Regions from separate parts of the Homo sapiens genome. Here region 2 is linked to region 1. Evidence: fine-mapped expression QTL. A gene starts in region 1. The other region holds a variant in brackets. All regions are shown on one strand. Distances are between the middles of the regions.

Region 1 (8,332 bases):
AATAGATTCAAACAAATGAGCAACTGCATCTTTAGTTTTTTCTCCGGCATGGGGATAGCATGTATTAGGTCTATATAAGTGTCCACAGTAACATGGAGAGATTTAAAACGTCCAAAGGGTGGATACTGAGTAACATCAGTTTGCCAGATAGCATTAGGCACCAGACCTCGTGGGTTGGCACCAAGTCCTAAGGAAAAAGGGGAAAGAGAATGCCATTGGCAATCAGGATAAGTTTTAATAATCATGTGAGCTTGAGCAAGTGTTAAATGAAACTGTTGTTTAAGACTGCAGGCGTTCTGATGGAAAAAAAGCATGATCAGCTTGAATTCGCAAAAAAGCAGGAGAGTCTGCAAACCACATCTGTGTGTGTACCAGAGCATTAGCTCGAGCGTTCCCTTCTGATAAGGGACCAGGTAGCCCAGAATGAGAGTGAATATGTGTGATGTAAAGAGGGTGATGATCGAAGGGGGCTTGCCCCTCCACACCTGTGGGTATTTCTCGTCAGGTGGAGACAAGAGACTGAGAAAAGAAATAAGACACAAAGTACAGAGAAAGAACGGTGGGCCCAGGGGTCCGGCACACTCAGCATGCGAGGAACTGCACCGGCGCCGGTCTCCGAGTTCCCTCAGGGTTTATTGATTACTATTTTCACTATCTTGGCATGGGGGGTGCGGCAGAAGAACAGGGTGAACAGGGTGATGGTGGGGAGAAGGTCAGCAGGAAAACATGTGAGTAAGGGAATCTGCATCATAAATAAGTTCAAGGGAAGGTACTGTGCCCAGATGTGCACGTAGGCTAGATTTATGTTTCTCTTTACCCAAACATCTCAGTTAGTAAAGAGTAACAGAGCAGTATTGCTGCCAGCATATCTCGCCTCCAGCCACAGGGCAGTTTTCTCCTATCTCAGAATAGAACGAATAGTCGGCTTTACACCGAGACATTCCATTCCCAGGGACATGTGGGAAACAGAGGACTTCCTCTTATCTCAACCACAAAGAGGCCTTCCTCTTTTACTAATCCTCCTCAGCACAGACCCTTTACGGGTGTCGGGCTAGGGGATGGTAAGGTCTTTCCAATCCCACGAGGCCATATCTCGGGCTGTCTCAGTCGGGGGAAACCTTGGACAACACCCAGGCTTTCTTGGGCAGAGGTCCCTGCGGCTTTCCGCAGTGCATCGTGTCCCTGGTTAATAGAGAATGGAGAATGGCGATGACTTTTACCAAGCATACTGTCTGCAAACATATAGTTAACAAGGCACATCCTGCATACCCCTAAATCCCTTAAACCTTGATTCAGTACAGCACATGTTTCTGTGAGCACAGGGTTGGGGCTAAAGTTACAGGTTAACAGCGTCTCAAAGCATAACAATTTTTCTTTGTACAGATCAAAATGGAGTTTCTTTTGTCTTCCTTTTCTACATAGGCACAGTAACAGTCTGATCTCTCTTTCTTTTCCCCACAATGATGGTCACAGAGGAGCTCTTACGCTGCAAGAAACAAAGCTAGTAGGGGTTCATTAGTAATGCCCTTCACATGTGCAAGATCTAAATGAGTAATACTACACACCGCATAAGCGGAATCACTAACTATGTTTATGTCTTGGTGAGGAAAAGTTTGTAAGGCCAATATCAGGGCACCTAACTCTGCCTGTTGCGTGGTTTTAAAATGTTCCTGGATTTTGTGCTGCCATTTTTGCATGGCCTATTGCCACACTGTAGCTGCTCTTCCAGTTTTTCCTAAACCATCTGTAAAGACAGTAGTGGCATGAAGCAAGGGCTCAGAAACAACAATAGATACAAATTTAACAGGCACAGTTTGTAAAAAGTTCAGGAGCTTAGAGGCTGGTAAATGAAAGCTGATATTACCAATAAAGTCAGCTATTGCGATTTGCCAATCAAGAGCACAAGCTAGAAGAGTATGAAATTGTTTTTTGCTTAAAGGTAGGAAAACAGTAGCAGGGTTATTTTTGCCATATGCCTGGTTAGGTCACAATTACAATATGTGGTTCCGGTCATTATTGCAGCAAAAGTTTGAGTCAGATGAGTTGTAGTGCCTATATTTTGGCATGCTTTAATAAACACACTGATTTCAGTGGCAGTGGCTTAGACTGGAGTTATTGCTGTCTGACAATCCTTATTTGCTTTTTCAAAAGCCAATTGTAACATAAGAAGTTTGGTAGCCTTAGGATGGGATACCTGTTTTTCAATTGCAGCTTGCAGTCGGTTGATAAATTTAATGTATGTTTCTGTGGCACCTTGTTTAACTGTTATAAAGGAACCCTGGGATTGTCTTACGGGATTTTTTTTTTTTATGTTTGTATTGCTAGCTGTGAGCATTGAGGAAATAGATGGCCACCTGCTTGACCCTGAGTCTGAGCTGAAGCAAAAGGCCCTGTTCCCAATAGCATATCAAGTTGTATCGGGATATTATTATCCAAATTTTGCAAGGACTGCTGCATGGCTAAATCACTGTACTCACTCCACCACACAGTATATTCTGCAGCTGAAACCAAAACATTTACCAAAGTTTTCCAATCATGTGGAGTCATCTTATAGCCATTTCCCAGAGCCTCAATCACCTCCTTCGTAAACGGTGAATGTACACTGTTTTCACGGATACTTTTCTTTAACTCTTTAAAGACAGTAAAAGGCAAACTCTCATGCCATCTCCTGTTGCTTTGAACAATAACAGGGAATGCGCCAAAAAGCGCCTCAGAGTCTCCCTTCCTAAGTCCCTCTTGGAGGCACCCCTCTACTAAGAAAGTTTGACGAGGAGTTGGCGTTGAGGACACGGCCACCCGATCATATAGATATTCACTGACTGGAGGTCTTATCCAAGAACCATCTCTTGGGCGGCCTCCAGACTCCTCAAGGGGGATGGGAGGCGCCATTGCCTGAACGGGGCCAACGAATACAGGTCCCTTTAAGGGTGGAGGAAAAGAGGGCAATGGCTTTTCTATAGGGGGAGGAAAAGGCTCCGGTCCGTCCTCATGATCACTAGAAAAAAATATCCTCCTTATGCCCTACAGAAGGGAATGAAGTAGAGAGAGGACCCCCCGCCCGCCTCCCGCTGTCCTGGTTGGCTCCTGTTCTTCCTTCTCCTTTAAACCTCCTGAATTCCCTTCAGGCAAAGACGGGCGGTCTGACCCACTGCAATCTGGCAGATAAAGAGGATACAACACCGAGTGTACCGGCGCCCAGGTGGTCAAAACAATAACCTCAGTAAAATGACCTTGCTCACATCCTGTTTTCAGGCAGTGACCTACCTGCTCCATAACTCAAGTCTAAGGTTCCTTGATCAGGAAACCAAGGGCATTCCTGCCGAATTAAGATCATAGCGTTGTGTAGAGCTCCAGGCTCTGCAGTGCACTGGTTAGCCTTAAGTAGCTGTCGCACTGTTTTTAAAAAACACTTTCTGTTCTTTGGTCATTTCTTGACCCATGATAATCCAACCCCTGATATTTTACGCGTGGGTCCCATCCTCCTGACGGGAGTCAGGACTGTCCCTTACCGGGATTCCCCGAAAATTGATGAGTTTTCCTCCTTCAAGCGTAACTTCAAGGCGATCACGTCGGGGTCACCACTTGCAGAGCTTATAGCTTGCAGTGAACGCCAAGAATGAGTTCTTAGACAATTTCAGCTGAAGGGGGCTGGGAGAGGGGGTGGGGGCAGCTCTTCTGAGAGCCCGCCCTTGTGAGAGCCTGCCCTAGCATCTGTCCGCCAAGTATTTATTGAAAGGGATTGTTAAACCACAAACATCCACTAGATGGCTTTTTGAGGTGGGGTCATGAGACACCTGCGGCCTTGCAAAAGCTCTCAAACCACATTCTTAGGAGGCTGTTTTCAGCGTTCCTTATGACACACTTCACTCCTTGTCCTGTTTTTAGGGCCAAGGAGTTACATTCTTATGCACAAATAACATACACACAGTGCCTCCGTATTTTTCCATGCCCTGACCTCAAATGCCACGTACATAAGCTTGGATATGTTGCCATGTACCCCAACACTTTAGGTGTGGCTGGCCTGGGCAAACACTTTGGGAAAAAACACCCATTACCCAGGTGTCAGGAGATGAGCTTACCAGGAAACAACAGAGTGCTGAATCTGCCAGATTATACAATGAGATCGAAAACAGTCATCCTTCTTGTTGGCATGGGTGTGTGAGGAGTTTACCAGTTCAGTGTAAGGGTCTGAGATAGAAGCCAGGGTTTGAATTCTGGCTCCTCTTGTTACTGTGAGGCACGGGAGCGAGAGGGTCACCCTCTGCCTCAGTTTCCTTACCTGTGAAATAGGGATAATACCAATCTCATAGAGTTTGGTGGGAAACACACACCAACTTGATAAAATCCATCCCTTACAACGTGACTTGTTATAACACGATGCGGCTGAGATGTTTTGTTAAATATAACATATCTAAGCCAGTGACTTACAATGGACCGTGGATGTGCATTGCTTCCCAGTGCTCTGAGACCTACTATGCATGCTCGGGAGAGCACCAGCTTGCAGATTGTGCAGCAGATTCTCTGTGGTTCTGCAAGCGCTCTTGGCTGATAAGGGCTCAGCCTCACTGTTCTGTGCTCAAAATATGTGTGTCTTCAGGAAGCCTCTGTGCCATTTATTTTGTGATAGGTCTGACCTATATTGGTGAACAAAGGGGGCAAGGGACAGCGTTGGACCCTATGCAGAGAAATAGAGCGAAAAGGACACATAGGCTCTTGAGCAAGGTTTTCAGTGACTGGAGGCACCTCCAAGGAGATGGCTGAGAAAACACAGGATAAGAATCTGCTGGCATTAAGGGGTGGGGGAAGCCATTTGACATTTTTAAGGGCTTACTAACATGGCTCCCTTCAGCCTAGGAGGTGTGACCAACACGTGATGCTCAGAGTGGATCACCAGAGGGATTGTGCTGTGACTTCCCAAATAGCACCGTCTCCACTGAGTCTCTCATTTCCAGGATCTGACACTAACCTGATTATTAGTAGACATGACAACTACTCAGAGCAGGGTTGGCAAACTTTTTTCAAGAATCAGATAGTAGGCCGGGCACGGCGGCTCACGGCTGTAATCCCAGCACTTTGGGAGGCCAAGACGGGTGGATCACAAGGTCAGGAGATTGAGACCATCCTGGCTAATATGGTGAAACCCTGTCTCTACTAAAAATACAAAAAATTAGCCGGGCGTGTTGGCGGGTGCCTGTAGTCTCGGGAGGCTGAGGCAGGAGAATGGTGTGAACCTGGGAGGCGGAGCTTGCAGTAAGCCGAGATCGCGCCACTGCGCTCCAGCCTGGGTGACAGAGCGCGACTCCATCTCAAAAGAAAAAAAAAAAAAGAGAGAATCAGATAGTAAATATTTTGGGCTTTGGGGACCCATATAACTTCGATTGCAAACACGTGACTCTTCCATTGTAGTGCAAAGCAGACATAGGCAATATATACCCAAATGGGTGTGGCTGTGTTCCAATAAAACTTTATTTATGCCTGGGTGCAGTGGCTCATGTCTGTAATCCCAGCACTTTGGCAGGCTGAGGTGGGCAGATTGGTTGAGCTCAGGAGTTTGAGACCAGCCTGGGCAACATGGTGAAACCTCACCCCTACCAAAAAAAAATACAAAAAAATAGCCAGGTGTGGTGGCACACACATGTCGCAGCTGCTCGTGAGGCTGAGGTGGGAGGATCTCTTGAGCCCCGGAGGTCAAGGCTGCAGTGACCTGAGACTGCGCCCCTGCACTGCAGCCTGAGTGACAGAGTGAGAACTTGTCTCAAACAAAACAAAACAAAAACTTATTTACAGAAACAGATGGTGAGCCAGGTCTGATCTGTGGGCTGTAATTTGCCAACCCCATTCTTAGAACACTGCCTGGCACATAGTAAACACTCATTAAATTTTAGCTATTGCTTCAACTTGCATGTCTCAGCCTCCAGAACTGTGAGGCATAAATTTCTGTTCTATATAAATTACCCAGTCTCAGGTGTTCTGTTATAGCAGCACAAAATGGACGTATTTGGAAAGACTATATAGTTTCTGAGGACATTGCTAAATATTGCCTATCCTAGTTGTTTATCTTGATTATTTGCTGTGATTTTGGGCAAAATGTGAAATGGCACTGAGCTAGTCTACATTTCCATAAAATAAAAATAAAGATACTGAAGGCTGCTCACTGTGCCTCAGTTTATTGTGAGGGTCGAAAATGGTAAGAAAGTCCTTGGAGATTGGTGAGGTGCTGTGAATGTTTTGGGGTTCACTTTTGGGGGAGGGTTTCAAGATGATGTTGCTAATGATCCTATCTCATCACTCACCTCTCTGGAACTTTCTTTTTTTTTTTTTTGAGATGGAGTCTTGCTCTGTCACCCAGGCTGGAGTGCAATGGCGCAATCTGGGCTCACTGCAACCACCACCTCCCAGGTTCAAGCAATTCTCCTGCCTTAGCCTCCCAAGTAGCTAGGACTGTAGGCGTCACCAACATGCCCAGCTAATTTTTGTATTTTTAGTAGAGACAGGATTTGGCCATGCTGCCCAGGATGGTCTTGAACTCCTGACCTCAGGTGATCCACCCACCTTGGTCTCCCAAAGTGCTGGGATTACAGGTACAAGCCACTGCGCTTGGCCCTCTCTGGAACTTTCTAAACCAATTAACAGTGATAGAGCCCCACATTGTTTCTGCACTGGTGCCAGGTTAATAAGAGCTTATCATAAACATTTTTTGAGGACTTGCTCTTTCCTAGGCACTTCAAATAAGTTATTTCTTATCCTCACAATGGTCCTTTGATAATTCCTGAAAGTTTTTTTTACGGCTGTGATAACCTCGGTTCAGGGCAGTGAAAGGACTTGCTCAAGGTGATATATCATGAAATGGCTGAGCTGGGATTCAAGTCCAAGTTTGGCCATCCGCAGAGTCTGCATCTGTGCCCCCTATTGCTGTCTCCAGTGCCAGACACAACTGTTATCTCCCTATTGTTCCCAGCCCTTACATTCTGGGTGCCTTCAAGTTTGGCATGGCCACGTGACTTGTTTTGGTTAAACCAATGCAAGTGGAAGTAAACGCATAGCTTCTGGGTGGAGCATTTAGGTGTCAGCACGTGACTCTGCAGGGCTCTTTTTCCCTTTGTCACAGTGACTATCAGTGTTCCAGGCAGAGCCTGCCTTATCCATCTGGGTCCCTGAGTGAACAGAGCCTCCAGGAGACATAGAACAGAAGGAAGAAATAAACCTTTGTTGTGTTAAGCCACTCAGCTGTTTGTTATAGCAGCATAACTTAAGTTTCTCCTGATTGTTATATTTTCCCAGAATGAATCCATACAGGAGTAAAACACAAAGTCCATGTCCTCAAAGGACTTAGAGTTTAGTAGGAGGAGCAAGAGCAGTTTGCAATTCAGTCCAACAAACAATTGTTAAGTGTTTACTATGAGCACCAAGTTCAGGGACTGGGAATGCAACGATGAATTAAGGCTGGATGTCCTGCTCTCAGAGACTAGCAAGGTAGAGGAGGCTCGGTGGGGGGAGGGAGAAGGGTTCCTGATTGTGGAACTCAGGGATGTCTTCAGGGAGGACGTGGACCCAAAACAAGGGTCCTCTGCCTGCTCCCCTGCTGTCCCCATCTCCCTTGCCCCACGCTCCTTCTCTTTCCTTTTTCTCTCTTCTTCAATCTCTTTCTTCTTCCCCACCTTCTGTGGTTTGAATGTGTCCCCTCCAAAATTCATGTTGAAACTTAATCTCCATCGTGATGGCATTAGGAGGTGGGGCCTTTTGGAAAATGGTTAAGTCATGAGGGCTCTGCCTTATTAGTAGACTCATGCCTTATAAAAGGCAGAGAGGGAACTAGCTTAGGTCCTTTTGCCCTTATGCCTTCCATCATGTGAAGACACAGCATTTGTCCCCCACGGAAGATGCCGCAACAAAGCGCCACCTCGGAAGTAAGTGAGGAATGGGGCTCTCACCAGACACCAAATCTGCTGGCACCTTGATCTTGGACATCTCAGCCTCCAGAGCTGTGAGGCATACATTTCTGAAGTTTATAAATTATCCAGTCTTGGGTATTCTGTGATAGCAGCACAAAATGGACATATCTGGGGAGACTCTACAGTTTCTGAGGACATTGCTAGAGATTGCCTTGGCTGGGAGTCCATGAACACTGGACAAGAGAAACACATGGCAGAATAATGAAGAACTTGGGGTGAGGGGGGACCCACCCCGCCCATCGGTCTTTCCCTTCCTCAGATGTAATAATGAACATTTACAGCCCGCATCTCACTCTAAGGGAGAGGCAGGCATGGATTATTACGTGTGATTTAGAGATAAGAAAACAGAAGTTCAGAGAGGACGAGTATTTTCCTTCCAG
Region 2 (8,332 bases), 69 kb before region 1:
GTTCAAGCAATTCACGTGCCTCAGCCTTCTGAGTAGCTGGAATTACAGGCGTGCGCCACCATGCCTGGCTAACTTGTGTATTTTTTGTAGAGACGAGGTTTTGCCATGTAGGCCAGGCTGGTCTCGAATTCCTGACTTTAAGTGATCTGCCTGCCTCGGTCTCCCAAAGTGCTGGGATTACAAGCGTGAGCCACTGTGCCTGGCCGCATTCATGAAAATATTTTTATTTAACAGCTTCTCACTTAGCAGCAGGGTTTCCAGTAACAAATCCATTAAGTGGGGGAACAGGTGGATACTTGTCCATCCACACATACAGACGTGAGACACCTAGGGTCCCTGCTGTGCACACACACGGACAAGATATGCAACTTTAGTCACTAAATCCTGGTGGATGTGACCCAAGCCACATGTCAACTTTTTGTTGACAGCAAAACAGCGACATTGAGGGATGTTTCTTAGACAGAAAGAGCAGACCCATCTCCATGCTGGGGTGTGTATGAGGATGGGGGTAGTGACCTCTGGGGCTGGGTGTTACAAAGGGAAGGCCAACCCTGCAGCCAGGAGAAGGGGAAGATCGCAGAGCCCCAGAGGTCAGATGCTGGGAGGAGCTCAGCTCCCAGGATCAGCAGATGCCTTGAGTGCAGGCTGTGGCTGGGGGCTGTGGGGCCTGGTGGGTGGATCCTGGGAGTGGCTGCTGTGGCCGTGGGAAGTTCCTGAGCTGGGTTCAGGTACTGGAGTCGGGAGAAGAAGGAAGGGCCAAGGCCACTCGCCTTTAGTCAGCCCAGAAGCAGCCCATGTGACCCTGTGATCCTTTTAGGTTTTCCTTCTGTGCTTTCTCTGGCGATCCAGGCTTTCCTCTCTGCCCACAGCCCTCCACAGACCACGTGGTGGTAGCCTGAGCCCCCAGACCTTGTGCTTTGGGCTGAGTCCTTCTTGTAGCTCTGGTCTTCCCTGAGGAGAAGGTTGCCCGGGAGTCGTACCTGGATTCTGGGGATGGATGTGATCTCAGCCAGGTCACCTTAGTTCTCTGGGCCTCAGTTTCCTCATCTGTGACACGTGGTCAGTCTCTTCCCTGCCCCTTCAGGCCTGTCATGAGGGTCGGGGGAAGGAGCTTGTGGAAGCCCCTTGATGGAGGGAGCTGCTGTAACCACCGTCTCCCAGCGCATGTAAGGCTATAGTTGTCAGCCAGGATCCAGAAGCCTCACCGCTGCCCTTCCTTCCTGCAGCATCGGCTGCCACCACCAGAATCTGGCGGCACCATGCGGCACTTGTCCTAGTCAGTTCTACCTTGGTGCTGAGCTATAAGCTTTTGTAAACATCTTCTTCCCTAGCCACCTCCCTGTTCTCACATGTCCTTCAAGACAGCATCTCCCCAGTGTAGACCAAGTGGGGCTCAGCACGGCCATGGTACAGATGGTTTAGGATGGCAGGAGGGGTTCTGCCTGCCACTCCCCACACAGCCCTCTTGTTGTCCCTCCTCCCTCGGCTCCCCTGTCCAGGCTCTGGGGATCGAGTGAGGGCCTGCCTGTCCTGCAGAGACCTTGCCAACCCACTCACCAGCTGGGTGTAGCAGAAGGTGGCATGGAAGCCCAGGAAGGTAGACAAGAAGGCGATGCCTAGTGCCAGGATGGTGAAGAACAGCAGCAGCACCGAGAGACTCTTCCAGGGCACCTGCAAAACCAGGGTGCAAAGCCTGCAAAAACTGGGCAGTTTTACAGGCCAGCCAGTCCCGGAATCAGTCTGCAGATTCTGACCAAGGAGATGGATAAAAGAAGGGAAGCTTTCTAGAAGGGGAGTGACCTGTCATCTAGTGAGCACCTGTTACGTGCTTATTTTAATCTTAGTTGCCTTATTAGATAGCTACTCTGATTAGCCCCATTTCACAGAGGATGAAACAGAGGTTCAGAAAAATTGAGGTACTTGTCCAAAGCCACACAGCTGGTATGTGAAAGCTGGGATTCAGACCCATCCAATTCCAAGACCCATGTGGTCAACCATTCAGACTGACACCCATCAGCAAAAAAGTACAGAAAGGTCAAGTAAGAAAATACATGGAAAAGCATGTATTTGGCAGTAAGCTACTGGCGGCTGCCCTGAGAGGGCTTGAGGTCTGTAGAGACGGGAGAGGAGGAGATGGAGTCCGTAGGAGATTGTTGCTGTGAAAGGGAAGAGAGGGGAGACCACAGTCAGAGAGGGACACGGGGTCTCCGGGACTTGAGTTTCTGGACCAGAGGAGAGGGAGAGGCATGGATGGAGGAGAGAGCAGCTAGGGAAGGTGAACACAGTGGACTAGGGTCGTGGGGGCCTAGGAGGAATGATTTGTCCTCTACTGATAAGGAAAGCACAGAGAGGGGCTGGGTGAAGATCAGTTTCACGTGAGGTCACGGGCAGGAAGTTGAGTCTTGGGGCCGTTCAGGGACCCCAGGCTACAGGGGAAGGTCGGGGATTCTGGGGCAGCTGGGTCACTGAAGTGGTCAAAGTGTGGGCAGCAGTGGGCAGTGTGTCCCTCGCCCCTGCATGGTGTGTCAGACCCACCTGAAGAGAGTGTTTCTCCTTTCCTCTCTTTCCCTAGGATGAGAGCAGAGGAAACTCCTCCCCCAGTATTCCCAGCCCCATTTTTGCCACGTCCAGGTCCCTGGTAGCAATCTCATGACATAATCACATGTCTTTGAAAAGATGTGACCTCAATGGCCACAGCCAGAAGGCAGGACTCACTGATAAATCTTAGGTATTATTATGCTGGCAGTCCTCCTAATGCACCCTTGACCTCTATGCTCTTACAGGGGAACGTCCTTGGTAGGAGGCAAGCAGCTGGAATATCTTCCTCCAAGCAAATGATTATTATTTTTTTTAAGAAACAGGGGCTCACTCTGTTACCCAGGCTGGAGTGCAGTGGCATGATTATAACTCACCGCAGCCTTGAACTCATGGGCTCAAGCAATCCTCCCACTTCAGCCTTCCAAGTAGCTGGGACTACAGGCCTGCACCAACATACCTGGCTAATTTTTTTCAAAAAAATATTTTTGGTTGAGAGTGGGCCTCACCATGTTTCTCAGGCTAGTCTCAAACTCCTGGGTTCAAGCGATCCTCCCGCCTTGGCCTCCTAAAGAGCCACCACATCAGCATTAACACAGGAAAAACTAGTCCAGAGGGAAGTACCTGGGGCTGTCAAATCCTGGTGGAGTTCTGCCTCAGGGAATCTGGAGGTAATTGCTAAACACTTAAACCCTACTCCCAAAAGCTGGGTGTCATGGTACCTGCCTGGAGTCCCAGCCACTCAGGAGGCTTAGGCAGGAGAATCGCTGGAGCCCAGGAGTTTGAGGACAGCATGAGCAAGTTAGCGAGGCTCTGTCTGTATTTAAAGAAAAAAAAAATCCCACTCCCCATTTTAACTTTGACAATAGAGGATAAGAAAATATCTCTTGGTGGTGGTTTCTAGGATTAAATGGTGCCCAAAGAGTGGATGCTTATTCTCTGGGCCTGAGACACTGATCTGGGTATAGTTGTTGCTGGCAGCCAGCTCAACCATGAAGGCACACACCCCGAGGCTGGCACACAGTGAGCTGACCAGGTTTGGCCCTGTGCTGACCTTCACCTGCTAAGGAGACCGGAGCCCGAGTTACTACCCAGCGGGAAGGGGAGAGTGCTGGCTCACATGCCCTCTGTGTTGCGGGCTTCCTTTGCACGCTTTTGATCCTGGAGGAACCACTGACTTGCCCTAGGAGCCAGGAACCAGTGACCAAGGTGACAGCATCTCTGCTCCACCTGCTGGAGCCCATGGGCCACAGAGGCTATGTCAGCCTTAATAGCCAGGAGATGGATTTGTTGCAGGAGCACAGACAGCAACATGTGTGGCCACTTCTTCCTGCAAAGTCCATGGCAGACAACATCCATCAATCCTCAGAACCCACCAGGGCCGCATCGATAGAAAAGCTATTTGCCATCTTTTGTGGGTTGAATTGTATCCCCCCAAAAGATATGTTGAAGTCTTAACCCTGGTACCTGTGAATGGGATCTATTTGGAAATAGGGTCTTTGCAGATGTAATCGAGTTAAGATGAGGTCATAATGGATTATGACTGGTGTCCTTAGAAGAAGGGAAGGGACACAGGGAGAACAGCCCCTGATGACAGAGGCAGAGACTGGCAGGATGTGTCTACGAGCCAAGGAACACCAAGAGTTGCCAGCAACCACTGGAAGCTGGGACGAGGCCAGAAAGCATTATCCCCAAGAGCCTTCAGAGAGAACTCGATCCTGCCAGCACCTTGAC[T/C]TTGGGCTTCCAGCCTCCAGAATCATAGACTACAGGTTTCTGTTTTCTTTCTTTTTTTTTTTTTTCTTGAGATGGAGTCTCACTCTTGCCCAGGCACGATCTAAGCTTACTGCAACCTCTGCCTCCTGGGCTTAAGCAATTCTCCTGCCTCAGTCTCCCGAGTAGCTGGGATTACAGGCAACTGCCACCACGCCTGGCTAATTTTTGTATTTTTAGTAGAGGCGGGGTTTCATCATGTTGGCCAGGCTGGTCTCGAACTCCTGACCTCAAGTGATCCGCCTGCCTCGGCCTCCCAAAGTGCTGGGATTACAGGCATGAGCTACCAGGCCCGGCCATGTTTCTGTTGTTTTAAGCTACCTGGTGTGTGGTAATTGGTTACAGCAGCCCTAGGATTCTAGTTTCCTAGGTTCAAAACAGACGGCTCTGGTGGGGATGGAGTCCCCTTTCTGGAGGTCGAACCAGGAGGTCCAGCAAGTTTAATGCCATTTGGGTCTGCATGCAACCTATCCGATTAGGGGTGACTTGCTGAGGTCCAGGCTGTATTAAAGGCATGGAGGAGCTGTGGTAAAGGAGAGGAGACTAGAAACAGACTCAAATTAGATACAGGAAGCTTCTATAGGACAGGAGGATGGTCAGGAGCTCAGACCTGCCAGTGAGTAGGATTGCGGACAAAGGCCCACTCCCTACTCGCCCACCATCCTGTGGAAAGGCCCCACAAGCATCCACTTTCATATAAGGTCTTCCAGGATAAGCTGTGCCCAGAGGCAGAAGAAATGTCTATGAAACTCACCCGGGGAACTGTGCAGTTTGCTGAGATGACCAGGGTGGTTGCTCCTGAAACTAAGAACTGCACAGAGAGGCAGGGAGATTGATGGTCTCAGGGAGCCCAGAGGCACCTGCCTCCTGGAAACCCTAATGCAGGGAAGGTTTGCCATGAGCATTTATGGCTTGGCACAGTGGGCCATGTACCAAGTGTCATGCGCGTCCGTGTGAAGAGAGTCCATCAAACAGGCTTTGTGTGAGCAACAAGGCTGTTTATTTCACCCAGGTGCAGGTGGGCTGAGTCCGAAAAAGGAGTCAGTAAAGGGTGGTGGGATTATCATTAGTTCTTACAGGTTTGGGATAGGCGAACAAAGTACCTTCTTAAGGGTACTTTGAATATTACAAAGTACCTTCTTAAGGGTACTTTGAATATTACAAAGTACCTTCTTAAGGGTACTTTGAATATTACAAAGTACCTTCTTAAGGGTACTTTGAATATTACAAAGTACCTTCTTAAGGGTACTTTGAATATTACAAAGTGGTACTTTGAATATTACAAAGTACCTTCTTAAGGGCAGGGGAGAATATATTGTGTCAGTTAGGGTGGGGCAGGAACAAATCACAATGGTGGAATGTCATCAGTTAAGACTATTTTCACTTCTTTTGTGGATCTTCAGTTGCTTCAGGCCATCTGGATGTATACATGCAGGTCACAGGGAAAATGATGGCTTAGCTTGGGCTCAGAGGCCTGACAACAGGGAGTAATGGGGCTTATGGGAACAGAGAAAGGCATCTAGTCCTCCCCACTGGGCTCTGCATAGGTTGGTGAGATAGGATTTTAGAAGGGGGCCACTAAAGATTCCTAGGTACCTGCCGGGCATGGTGGCTCATGCCTGTAATCCCAGCACATTGGGAGGCCAAGGCAGGCAGATCACCTGAGGTCAGGAGTTTAAGACCAGCCTGGCCAACGTGGCGAAACCCTGTCTCTACTAAAAATACAAAAATTAGCCGGGAATGCCCGAAAGATTCCTAGGTAACTGGTCCAGTACTTTTCAAACTTGACAGAGGACATGAGCGCCTAGGGATCTTGTTAAGCTGCAGACTGACTCAGCCCGTGTACGGTGGGGCTTAAATTCTGCATTTATTTATTTATTTATTTATTTATTTTTATTTTTAATTTTTTTTTTGAGATGGAGTCTCCCTCTTGCTCTGTCGCCAGGCTGGAGTGCAGTGGCGCAATCTCGTCTCACTGCAACCTCTGCCTCCCAGGTTCAAGCGATTCTCCTGCCTCAGCCTCCTAAGTAGCTGAGACTACAGGTCTGTGTCACCATGCCCAGCTAATTTTTATATTTTTAGTAGAGATGGAGTTTCTCCATGTTGGCCAGGATGGTCTTGATCTCTTGACCTCGTGATCCTGCCCGCCTCGGCCTGCCAAAGTGCTGGGATTACAGGCGTGAGTCACCATGCCTGGCCTGCATTTTTTTTTTTAAGAGACAGGGTCTTGCTCTCTGGCCCAGGCTGGAATGCAGTGGCACCATCATAGCTCACTGCAGCCTCCAACTCCTGGGCTCAAGTGAACCTCCTGCCTCAGCCTCCTGAGTAGCTGGGACTACAGGTATGTACCACCATACCCAGCTAGTTTTCCTTTTTAATTTTTTTTTCCTTTTTTATATCTTGTTGCATATCAACATTTTTTATTTTTAGTAGAGACAAGGTCGTGCTATGTTGCTCAGGTGTTCTCAAACTCCTTGCCTCAAGAGATCCTCCCCTCAGCCTCCCAAAGCTCTGGGATTGCAGGCTTGAGCCACTGGAGCTGGCCTGAGACTCTGCATTTCTAACAAGCTCCCAGGTGATGCCAAAGATGCTGGTCTCTGGCCCATGCTTGGAGGTGGGAGGGACTAGTCTCTCATTTTGAAGATGGAGAAACTAAGACTGAGAGAAGGAGGCAACCTGCCTAAGTCACAGGGCTGCTAAGTGATAGATCTGGATCTAGAAATCAAGTCCCAGGGGCTTTTGTTTCATTGTAGTGGCTGAGCGCCTTGACTTGAGTGTTACCCTCGGGGTAAGTCCCCAGGGACACCACCTTTCTCCTTCCTCGGCTGCATATATTGGGGCAGAGGCCCTTTGCCACGACTCCCCCCACCACACGCTGTGAACCAGCTTCAGCTCTTTAGCTGGCCGCCTCAACAGCCCAGTGCCTCCCCTGGGCCATCCAATCCCATGTGGGGTGGGCCTGGAACTTCCCCTCGAGCTCAGAACAGTTCCACCCCCTGCAGCTTCACTCCCACTTCACAGACTCAAACTCCCTCCCAAGGGTGCAGGGAGGATCTGCAGTCCTGGTCTTTGCAGTCCTCTCTGTCTCTGGGCCACCACCAAGTGGGATCTCCAGGGTCCTCAGGAGCACTCCTCCTGCCAGCGGGTACAAGTAAGTGGTGGGGAACTCGGTGGAGCTCGAGGAGGCAGCCAGGATGCGGCCCGCCCCCCAACCTGCCAGCCACCAGTTGCCAGCAGCTGATAATGATCTGCAGGGCCTGGGGGTGGAGGGGGGAGGGCGCAGAGCTAAAGCCTTGGGCTTTCGGGGTTGGGGCTGTGTCTCCCAGGACTTGAGTGGCTGGGCAGGTCTCTGTGCACATGTCTCTGCCGAAAAGGATCTTAGACAAACTCCCCATCCACCTCCTTCCTTGGCAGCCAAGAAAACAGAGGCCTGGAGAGAATAAGAACCTTGCCAACTTCCCCAGCCAGTGAGGGCAGGCGCAGAACCAGGCCTCTTCGTCCCAGGGGCACCGCAGGATTGCAGAACCCTAGAAAGCTTGGGTGAGGGCCATCTCAGGCATCAAGCCCAACACATTGGTTACCTCCAAGGTGCTGGCCCTGAGTGCACCGAGCTTGCTCTGTGCACCAAGTCATTTAGCTCTCACCACACCCATGAATGGAGCAGCACCCTGCTCATGGCATTCTAGGGACGAAGCTGGGGTCTCAGAGTGGGATCGGAGCCTGCCTCTGCCCATGTTCCCTAAGCCTCCATACCGCACATGCAAGCCTGTCCTTCCAGGGCACAGGGTTGACTCAGCCTAGGCTGAAGCCCAGAAGTTTGCGATCATTTGTCTCAAATAGGCTTCTCTGACCTGAGAGCAGCACTTTGACCTCACCCTCAACACTCCACCTCTCTGTCACCCAAGAGGAGTAGCTTCTCCCAGCAGGCTCCGCTCCTCCCATCGTTTCGTGCTCAACGGCAAGGTAAAAGAGACCTCATTTTCAAAACTGGGACCCAGAGCCACACATGCAGAGAACGGAGGAGCTA

What was found.
Region 2: its variant is fine-mapped to the expression of MS4A15 in lung (TOPMed, PIP 0.93).

Annotation. Positions count from the first base shown.
Region 1 is chr11:60,752,236-60,760,567 of GRCh38, reverse strand. MS4A15 (membrane spanning 4-domains A15) reads right to left here and starts at 3,701. Exons shown (of 7, transcript NM_001098835.2): 1 at 3,510-3,701. RefSeq lists a silencer at 6,880-7,091.
Region 2 is chr11:60,821,210-60,829,541 of GRCh38, reverse strand. All of the region lies in intron 2 of LOC105369322 (a long non-coding RNA gene), which reads left to right. Among named protein-coding and RNA genes, the nearest start is that of CCDC86, 17 kb to the left of the region's middle. The variant T/C (reference allele first, on the strand shown) is at 4,270.